Linked DNA regions of Homo sapiens: region 2 is linked to region 1. The links come from fine-mapping of genetic effects on gene expression. Tissue or cell type: lung. Region 1 holds a variant in brackets; the other region holds the start of a gene. All regions are shown on one strand. Distances are between the middles of the regions.

Region 1 (5,398 bases):
GGCTGATGTGATAGTTAAAAGAGCTCATACACGTAAAACACTTAGAAAAGTGCCTGGCATGTAATGACTACTTTGTAAATGTTAGCTTTTCTTGTTCTCCTCCCCCTCTTCCTCATCCTCCTCCTCAGTAATACAATCATTATTTTTACCAGCCTGTTGTAAAGGCTTCTAAATTTAGTTTTATTAAATGATACGTACACAGTTAGCAGTGACATTTTTTGATTCACTGGCACAATTTGTTACTTCCAGAAAAAACCCACTTTCAATACTCAGGTGTAGAGCGACAGCCTGCAGCCAGGCAACATTCCTTACTCAGGTGTATATTTAAGGATCCTGTCCTTGCTGAAGCTTTAGGGAGGGGCCTTCTTGGGGCCATAGCCTATGGGAAGGGGCGGGCCAGGGTAAAGATATACGTGGATATAAACATTAATAAAATATGGTTCCTCTCTTCCAATATCTATGGGTAAGATGAGCTTTATTTTCTCTTCTGGAAGCACGATTCCTATGGTGGAAAATTCAGACTACGTAAGGAAGTAAATAGTACTGGTTGATGATGAAAAGTTTGCAGCCAGAGAAGCCTTCAGTTCTCTCGAGGGCATCTCATGTAGGTAGCCCCACCCATGCCTACAGGTCAAACTACCTTGTTATTGATCACATTGGGCATAAACAGCTTCTTAGATGGCCCACACAAAGTTTCCTTTAGAAAAGAAAGTTGCTTCTCCTTCAAAACATTGTTGTCATGGGTAAAATCAGCCCCTTAAAAGAAACTCACATGAGATAAAAAATCCTTGATCATGACATTTGCCTCCCTTATATTACTACTTATCATCCTGGAAGCGCTGTGAATTCAGAGATTCTGTATCTGTTTACACATACTCTATAGGGTATTGTAGAACACCAGGCCTGGAGAAAGTGCTCAGCACATAGTTTTTGAGTGAAAAGTGATAGGTCATTCTCCCTAGCATGCTTTCAAGGAAATAGCCCTCTAAAATAAATTTGTTATTATTTGGGGAATAAAGCATATTTAAACATAATATCCACCCTAGTATATGAATAATAATTCTACTATATTTAATGTATTAGTTATTTGAGGCTACTAGGACAACCACTTAGGTTTTGCAGATATTCGCATCATGATTGTGAGTCTAGGTGAGTTTGACTTGGTCAAGCTGAGTTTAGTAGGCTCAAATGGATGTAGAGATGGGGAAGCAATAAACCTGCTCAGATTAGAAAGCAGAATTAGTATGATTGTCCATCATATACTCTTTGCTTCCTGATTTCGGCATCAAATATAAGGCAATTAGACAATCTGGTGGAGAAACGAACAGAATGCAGCAAGACATCCAGAAATAATTCATTAGGAAAGATGCCTGGTATTTTGAATACTTTTCTTGTAGTGCACCAAACAAAATGGTAACCTGATAACCTAGAAGAGTCATTGATTACCCCAGGAACTCGACCTGTCTTTTATGAGGAACTGGGTAATGCCTATTTGTGTAAATGAGCAGTACCAAAAGCAACAAATTATGACATCACTTTTTACCCTGTAAATTTAAACCATGACAAATCGTTAATTTACAATAAAAAAAAAACAAAATCAAAGATTCTTTGCAATGGTGTCTATTTATAACATTAACACAAGCTGAAATTTATAAATCCTTCTATTTCATACATTCACAGTTCAGAAACAGCTGCAGAAGATTCTCCCAAGATGAAGCACTGTATGGCAAGATGTAGCCCAGACTGAATTTTTATGGTTGAGTTATAAAGCTCTGACAATTGCAGCCTGTATGGAGGGGGTGATAGACCCTTGACAATGGTAGTTCTGGCAGCAGATTTAATACTGGTTATTTCCTCTGCTTATGACATTAATGCAGCATTGTTAATATCTGATTAGCATTAGTCAAGTAGAAAGACTTTCCTGAATAAAAATTCTTTCCTGGCAAGGCATTCAAAAGCACATCAATACTAATACCACCTGACTTGGCATATTATATATATGGGTAGGATTGCTATTTTATATATATAAAACATGTGTACCTGGATGTATATCATCTATCTTCACATATAATATGCCATATATATTTATATACATATATATACATATATGTGCTTAGGCAGGTATCAAGTTCATGCTTCTCATTTTCAAAAATTTTTCTGATGTGACCAGGGCTAGTCAATACACTGATCAGAAAGAAGAACCTTTTATATAATCAAAAGACAGAAAAATAAGATGAAGTACATGGTATTTAGACATGTTTTGGTAACACAAACCATTCTACTTATAATTAGACCTTGCAGTATACTTCCTACCATCAAACGGCATGCAGGATATTTGATTTCAAGCCAAGGCTAACATGACAATCATGTTATTATCTTTTTTATTTTTTCAAGCAAAGAAAGTTCATGTTCTCTCTTCTGTGTCTTCTTTCAAAATATTTCTTTCAAGATTACAACTTAGAGGAAAATAATTTGAAACAGTTTTGCTCTTAGTAAAGCACAGAGAGTGACTGTCAGCAAGGTAAGTGTCATCCATATTTTAGCCAATATTTACATTCAGATTTCATTAGTTTAAACAGATATATTCCAAATACTATATAAGAAATATAGTCCAATTTGCTTGTGATTCATAACTCACTACTAGTGTGAGTTTTTATGTCTTAAAAATGAGATAGCTTGCAAATGTGAAGATGATTTATTCAACGCAAAGATAATTGTTGTACTCCCCTTCACATATGATCTACGGTTAGGTCTGCCTTATACTGTTTGCTGTCTATTATATACATGTCACTATCTAGACTTACAAACAATTCCATTTGGTTACTCTGGTTAAAGCATTTATTTTCTTCAACAGTCATGAGTAATGCTTATCATTCAGTGTATTATGTGATTAGGCTACTAGAACATTTACTAATCCCCCAAAACACACACACATATACACACATGTGCGTGCATACACACACACACACACATACACATCCTCTGCAGGATATAAATAAAATAGCAATCCTCCCCTACACATGTACCTGGATGTATATCATCTATCTTCACAGTATATGATTAAATAGCTAAAATTACCATACCTATTGGACCTGGAAATCCTC[G/A]TGGACCACTTTCTCCAGTGGGACCTCGATCTCCTTTTTCACCCGGGGGTCCAGGAGGACCTTTAAAAAAATTACAGTTACTGATCATAGTTGTAAAGCATAGGAAAAATGGGTTAGTCATCTGTCAAGGTACTTATATAAGGAAATCCAAAGTCTTCTATTTGTTGTGCAATAATATAGAATGTATAATACTGAACTTCATGAATGGAGGAGTATTCTGCTATTCAGGAATATAATGCCCTATACTAATGAGGATGACATTGCCTCAAAGTAAACAACCTAACAGTATATTAAATGTGAGTGTGCCTAACACTTTTCTATGTTCTGAGAACCTGGGGGCAGAGAAAAGACAGCAGGCTGGCACAAAGTCACATTAGTGTTGTACGCATCCTAGGCAGTTAGACATAGAGTTAGATATAATACAGAATTAGCTACTATACGGAAAATCTATAAGTAAGAACTTAAAAGACATTTGTGATACCCTCAAGGGAAAGGAAAATTCACACATGGTAGACAACCAGAAAGCACTTTGTTGGAACTGACCATAAACTCAGATATTTGTCAGTGAACTGTAGATCGGCGTGAATGGTGATGGTTGAAGTCTTCATTGAGAAAGTAGGATATGAGGGGTACTTTCAAGAATGAAGGGAAGGGGAAGGAAGACAATTCCTAGGGATTGAGAAAGGCATGAGGAAAGGCAGGAAGGTGAAAATGAGTAGAGGAATTCTTTTTTCAAGTAAAATATTAAGTAGAATTTCTAGGTTGCTATAAATACTGTAAACAAAATGGAGACATTGCAAGGAAAACTTTGGTCTCATCATTTTTTTTCAGGTGGCTCTCCTGAGAGCTGTAACTAAACAACCCTGATTTAGCCATTTGTATTTTCTGTGTCCAGCAAAACAGATACCTGCTCATCATGCCTTTAAAATGATTATACCTAGCATGTCTTTAGAACTCAAAGGTAATCCTACCTAAACACCATGTTCCATATGGAGTACAGAGGACAAATAATCTCTTCTTTATCTAAAGAAGAGCACTTAGTTTCCTTTTCAACACCAGAAGAAAGAAACAGAAAGAAACATTATTCCATAGATTCACCACAGAATAAGGAAATAGTGATATTTTAAAGGAAGCATTTTCAATTGCTAGTTTGGACACATACATAGTCCAAGGAAAACAAATATATACAGCATCCCTGGTTAGAATGCACTTGTTTACAAATTTTAATCAGGTGGGAGACATAATACCCGAAGAAATCTAAGAGGGGGAACCACATAAATAAATAAAGATTATCTCATGAATAAGTATATTTTGTACATTTTGTTGTTGCTTATTTTGACATCCTTGACTCTACTTCTGTCTATTCCTCTGGTATGTCCCATTTTCAAGGTACAATTTGGGTTTTAGAGGCCCAAGATATCATTATTACTCTTCTCAATAGAATGTCCCTTTCTCCTCATATGCAACATTGGACACACATTTAATTGTATTTTTATTATAAAAGCAACTCTACTTATAGGAAACATAAAAGCCTAGAAAAAGCGTGAGGAAGAATATAATTCGTAGTTGTGTTATTTTAACTAAAGATCTTTACCATTTCTTTCCTAAGTGTGTACGTGTATTTTTTTTTTCCACATAATCGTCATGCAAACAACATGTTACAGGGCTTTTAGAAATTAACTGGTGTATTATATTCTAAGGTATAGCTTAATTGCTGCGAGACATATATTTAAATGCTGCACAAGAAATGTAAGATTTCTGTATCAAAGGGAATCTCTATGTGCCCCCTATTCCCTGCAGAAGAATGTAGTACTTCCCAAGAAAATGGAGTTATGGTAACTTCCATAACCATGAACGCAGCTGCATCCATTCAACACTACATAGCAATGAATCCCAGGGGAGGGGGGCAAGCAGGACAGACACTCAATTTATGCCTGAATTTTGTTGAGCTAATTGAAGGGAAGCACAGGGATAGTAATCAAGGATGGTATTTTGAAAAAAGTGCGCAAGCAAAGATTTCAGTTTAGTAACTCAGGATCCAAAGCAAGACGCAGACATTCCAGGAAAAACTAGAACATGAAACAAGAAGAAACAAGGGACACAGAGAATAGATCTAGACTCTTAGCCTCTGAGATGGACTTCTCACCATTTCTTTGGTAAGTAAGAGATGGAAGGAACTCTCCTAATTACTAACTATCCTTTCAATTATATTACATGTAATTATGGGAACTGTATACTTAATTTTGGAGTATTAGTTCAATCACAGCGAATAGATCAGTATTATTTTACAAAAT
Region 2 (5,398 bases), 38 kb after region 1:
TATATAAAATCTTATTTTATATATATTTTTATATATAAAAAATCATATTTTATATATATTTTATATATTTTATATATATGAAATCTTATTTTATATATATTTTATATATATTTTATATATATATAAAATCTTATTTTATATATATTTTATATATATATAAAATCTTATTTTATATATATTTTATATATATATAAAATCTTATTTTATATATATTTTATATATATATAAAATCTTATTTTATATATATTTTATATATATATAAAATCTTATTTTATATATATTTTATATATATATAAAATCTTATTTATACAGCCATTTTTCTAAATAAAAAATACAGCCATTTTTCTAAAATATAATTTTTTCTTTTAAACTTTTTTTCCTTTTCCCAGGGGGCAATGCTTCACTGATATAAATAATGATGTTATAAATATTTCCTTTTTTTTTTTTTTTTTGAGATTGAGTCTTGCTTTGTCACCCAGGCTGGAGTGTAATGGTGTGATCTCAGCTGACTGAAACCTCTGCCTCCTGGGTTCACGTGATTCTCCTGCCTCAGCTTCCCGAGTAGCGGGATTATAGGCGTTTGCCACCATGCCCAGCTCATTTTTGTATTTTTCACCGCGTTCATCCAGCTGGTCTCAAACTCCTGACCTCAGGTGATCCACCCTCCTTGGCCTCCCAAAGTGCTGGGATTACAGATGTGAGCCACTGCCCCGGCCATTATTTTCATAATTTAGCTTTCTTCTTTTAAAATGTTTCTTTAGGATAATTCATCATATGTGAAACTAAAAAGTGAAAGGAAAACTATTTTGAACTTCTTGGGCTCTACTGTCTTAGTGATCTTTAAAAAGATAACATAAATTTATAAATATTCCAGACTTATATGTGAATATGGCAGTTTCAAGCAAAATTCACTACCATTGAATAATAAAGCTTATTTTAGAATCATTTAGATTTTGATAAGAGTTAAATAATACCTAAAAGTGGTTTTCATTTTTATTTTTTATTATTAATGTAAGAGAGAGATTTCACTGTAATTGTCTGTCATACATTGTTCTTCTTGGGTTATTATCTATTCATATTCACTGCTTATACATCCCCACAGGTTTCTTTTACCTAAGCATGTGAATCAGCTCTTTATGTTTAATACATATTTACCATCTGTCTTTTCATACTTGACATGCATTCGTTTTCCTAAGATTTTTCCCTATTTAGTTTTTTTATCATATTCTTTCTTTTTTCTTTCTTTCTTTTTGTTTTTGAGATGGAGTTTCGCTCTTGTTGCCCAGGCTGGAGTGCAATGGCGTGATCTTGGCTCACCACAACCTCCGCCTCCTGGGTTCATGTGATTCTCCTGCCTCAGACTCCGGAGTAACTGGGATTACAAGCATGCACCACCACGCCCGGCTAATTTTGTATTTTCAGTAGAGACAGGGTTTCTCCATGTTGGTCAGGCTGGTCTTGAACTCCCGACCTCAGGTAATCCACCTGCCTTGGCCTCCCAAAGTGCTGGGATTACAGGCGTGAGCCACCGTGCCCGGCCCATCATATTCTTAAGGCCAACTTTATCTTCAACATTTGGAATAAATAATAAGCTTGTGATCCTCCTTATTATATAAAATAATAACTTTGATTTTTGTAACAGCAGTTGAATGTGTATATAAAATGAAAATTAAATTAAGATTATTTGTGAAACTAACAGCTTTATGCTTAAGGAACCCGTCTGTAAGACAGATTTTAGTAAGAAATGGAAATATTTATATTGTGCCTGATGTCACTGATATTCATCCTTGGTAGCAAAGAAGAAAGAGCATCAACTTTTGAATCTGAAATCTAGATTTGAGTATTGACTGTGACATCATTTAGCTGTGTGATCTTAGGCAAATATTTTAACTTATTTGAATTGAACTTTCTTTAGATATGTAAAATATGATCACAATATAAATTTAAAGAATTATTGCGAGAATTAAAAATAATTTTTGTAAATTGCCTGGTACACAGAAAACCATCAATATATGAATCCCTGTTATTTTAAAATATCACTTTTTTTTTAAATATGAGCTTTTCTTATTTTGTTCTCACGGAATCTTCATGAGGTACAAGTAGTATTTTCTCCATTTTACAGGTTAGGGAACTGAAATGTGTAAGTAACTAGTCAAGTTACTCAACTAGGGAGCAGGGGAGCTGGAATTTGAACACAGGCAGTCTACTCCCAGAAGATTAGCTCTTACCCACTGCATAAAACGGCTAATCACTGCATAAAACATCTGTAATCTCAGTTCTATGGTTTTTCTATAAGTATTTTTACCTGGTCAGTGCAAATGCCAACCTCCCATTATATGCTGTGTGAATCTTACTTAGTCTTCAAGATTAATCAGATTTCTAGCATCTCCATGAAGATTTATTTTTGATAGACTTTTTTCACATAGAAGTAATTTTGGCCTCGCCTATATTTTCATAGTAATTATCTATAGCATTTTCATACTACTTAAGGTGCTAGTAATTATCTATAGTACTTTCATACTACTTAAGGTGCTCAAATTACATTATGCCTATTTGGGGATATGTTTTAAATCATAAGATTCCGGAGCACAAAAAGAACTATATCTTATTTTTTGTATCCTTTCCCCACATCTAGTTCAATGAAGTGCATATAGTAGATACCCAGCCAATATTTGCTATATAATCAAGGGAAGATAATAAAAGGCATTAGATTAAAGCCAAAAATGTTCCATGAAAAGTTATGAAAGGAGAATAGGTGAAATATGTCAAATTATACTTTGAATAAAACCAGTATTTTAAACAAAATATGCTTAATTATATGAAAAAACCCCATTGCTGGTTCAAACTACAAAGCATTTAGTGTATTTCATATGTACTTGTGAACATATATGTTTTTCACTCATGGAAAATTTAGCAGAAATCCCTATTTTTTGATTATCGAAAAAAACCAAACCAAATTATTGCTGATACAATAAAGCATTCATCTCATCATACACACACAGACACACAAATATATATCACACACATGCATGCACACACACACACAGAGTACACACATAACAATCAATAGAAACAATTCTGGAAAAAACATTAAAATAAGCCTTTTTTTTTCTTTACCTTTCGTCCTAAAGAAAGCAGCACTGATTTATCCACTTCTCTCTCTTTACAATTGAAACCTAAAATCTTTATCTCATAGTATTTCAGCATCTGGTACATGAAGAAAGGAAATGACACATTCCTGCGTTGAAAATCTTTCTTAATGTGTTTCAATAGCACTCTCATCAATGCACAGGTTTGCAAAATCTAAATTTGTCAGATAACTCACTCTTCACCCCATTTAGGCCGCTTTAAAAAAAAAAGAGAAGTGAAAAGGAAAAGAAACAAGGGTTGTTGAAACAAGCACATAATTTACAGCAGATTGAGCTTTCCTTTTTTTTTGGAGATGGAGTCTCGCTGTCTCACCAGGGTGGAGTGCAGTGGTGTGATCTCCGCTCACTGCAACCTCTGCCTCCCAGGTTCTACAGGCGTGTGCCATCACACCCGGCTAATTTTTTGTATTTTAGTAGAGACAGGGTTTCGCCATGTTGGTCAGGATGGTCTTGATCCCCTGACCTCATGGTCCGCTCGCCTTGGCCTCCCAAAGTGCTGGGATTACAGGCGCGAGCCACCGTGCCCAGCCTGATCTTTCCTTTTTTATAAGTAATCTATGCCTTCTAAAACATACATTAATTCTCATGATCTCCTCTTTCACGTTACTATAATGTTGAGTAAAGACTCCATGTTTGGCTAGGTGTGGTGGCTCATGCCTGTAATCCCAGCACTTTGGGTGGCCGAGGTGGCTGGATCACTTGAGGTCAGGAGCTCTAGAACAGCCTGGCCAACATGGTGAAACTAGTCTCTACTAAAAATACAAAAATTGGCCAGGCATGCGCCTGTAATCCCAGCTACTCGGGAGGCTGAGGCTGAAGAATTGCTTGAACCCAGGAGGCGGAGGTTGCAGTGAGCAGAGATCGCACCACTGCACTCCAGCCTGGGCAACAGAGTGAGACTCCACCTCAAAAAAAAAAAAAAAAAAAAAGACTCCATGTTTAGAGATTCGAGTTTTTTTCTTAGATCCTTTTTCCTGTACCTTTATCCCTAGCCTCAAACACAAAACACGTGAAGAAAGAATATGATGCCTTAGTAAGAACAAGTAATAACCTAAAAGCACTCACTCCTGTTCTCTCTATAATGATAATAGCATTAATTTTTAGAGCACCAGACAAGTTGTTTATTTCCAGTAGTATAGTAGAGGGAAGGAATCTCAGGCATGGATCAGATGAAAGGGATGTTCTTTCCCTTCTGCCATCCATCAGGGTTTTATACAATTCAACTCCGTTATTTACTCACATTCAAGAAGTTCAAGTATGACTCACATGAAAACGTTCAACATTACATTAATGAGCTAAGTTTTACAACTGATATTTCTGGGAGAAGGTGTTTAGCTTATATTCCGTAGTCACTCTTTTGTGCCCAAACAGGAGAAATCATGCTTCCTACCAAAAGATGCCCCAAATTGCTGTGCCCATGGGCACCATCCTTCAGAAGACAATACGTCTGCAAGAAAGTATGCGGGAACAGCGCACGGTCTTTGAGAGATGCAAAGTAACAGTATTATTCAGTTATTCTTAAGGTAACCACTAAAAGGCTAATAGTAGTAGTAGGACAGGCATCAAAGTAAGCTGCATAATTTCTAACCAGGCAGCTTGAAGACTAGAAGTACGATCACAATTTGATCCAGCCTGGACCAGCATAAATGCTATTGGCTATTCCTCATCAAATTCTTACTGACACAGAACTGGAGACTACAAAACTCACACTCTTTCCTTTACAATTATTTGTACATGCTTCTTATTTTAAAATATAGTCCTTTTAGGTTTTTTTGTACAAAATCTGAAGTTTAAAATTTAGATATCCCTGACAATGCTACGTGATTAGAAAAGTCAGACTCTGGGAATAACAAGACACCAATCTCCCAAAATTCTATCCTAATGAGGTTTCTTTCTGTCAGTGTGCTTTATTTTCAGTATGTCTCTGTAATACTGTTTGGTGTATATCCACAGTGCTGACCACTTCCCTATGTGATGATTTCCACACTCTTCAGCCAATCTAATTTTTCATTAAAAAACTTCCCTTTTTATATGTCTAAATAGGTACTATATAATTTTATATAGTTTTATATATAATAATTATAGATTATGTAACATAATATTATCTATTAGGTCTTACTATATGTAAAAACACCTTTAGCAGGGAACCATGTTAAAAATGTTCAGTTCAAGCCAATGATTAATTGAGAACAGAGGTAATATGTAAAGGGTTGGGATTTTGCATTCATTCCTTCATTTGACTTCACAGC

The links. PIP is the estimated chance that this variant, and not a neighbour inherited with it, causes the effect.
Region 2: MSR1 starts here. The variant in region 1 is fine-mapped to the expression of MSR1 in lung (TOPMed, PIP above 0.99). The same link has a PIP of 0.9 or more in aorta, blood mononuclear cells, nasal epithelium, tibial artery and whole blood.

Annotation. Positions count from the first base shown.
Region 1 is chr8:16,151,981-16,157,378 of GRCh38, forward strand. MSR1 (macrophage scavenger receptor 1) reads right to left here. Exons shown (of 10, transcript NM_138715.3): 6 at 3,084-3,164. Among named protein-coding and RNA genes, the nearest start is that of MSR1, 38 kb to the right of the region's middle. The variant G/A (reference allele first, on the strand shown) is at 3,105.
Region 2 is chr8:16,189,481-16,194,878 of GRCh38, forward strand. MSR1 (macrophage scavenger receptor 1) reads right to left here and starts at 3,171. Exons shown (of 10, transcript NM_138715.3): 1 at 3,118-3,171.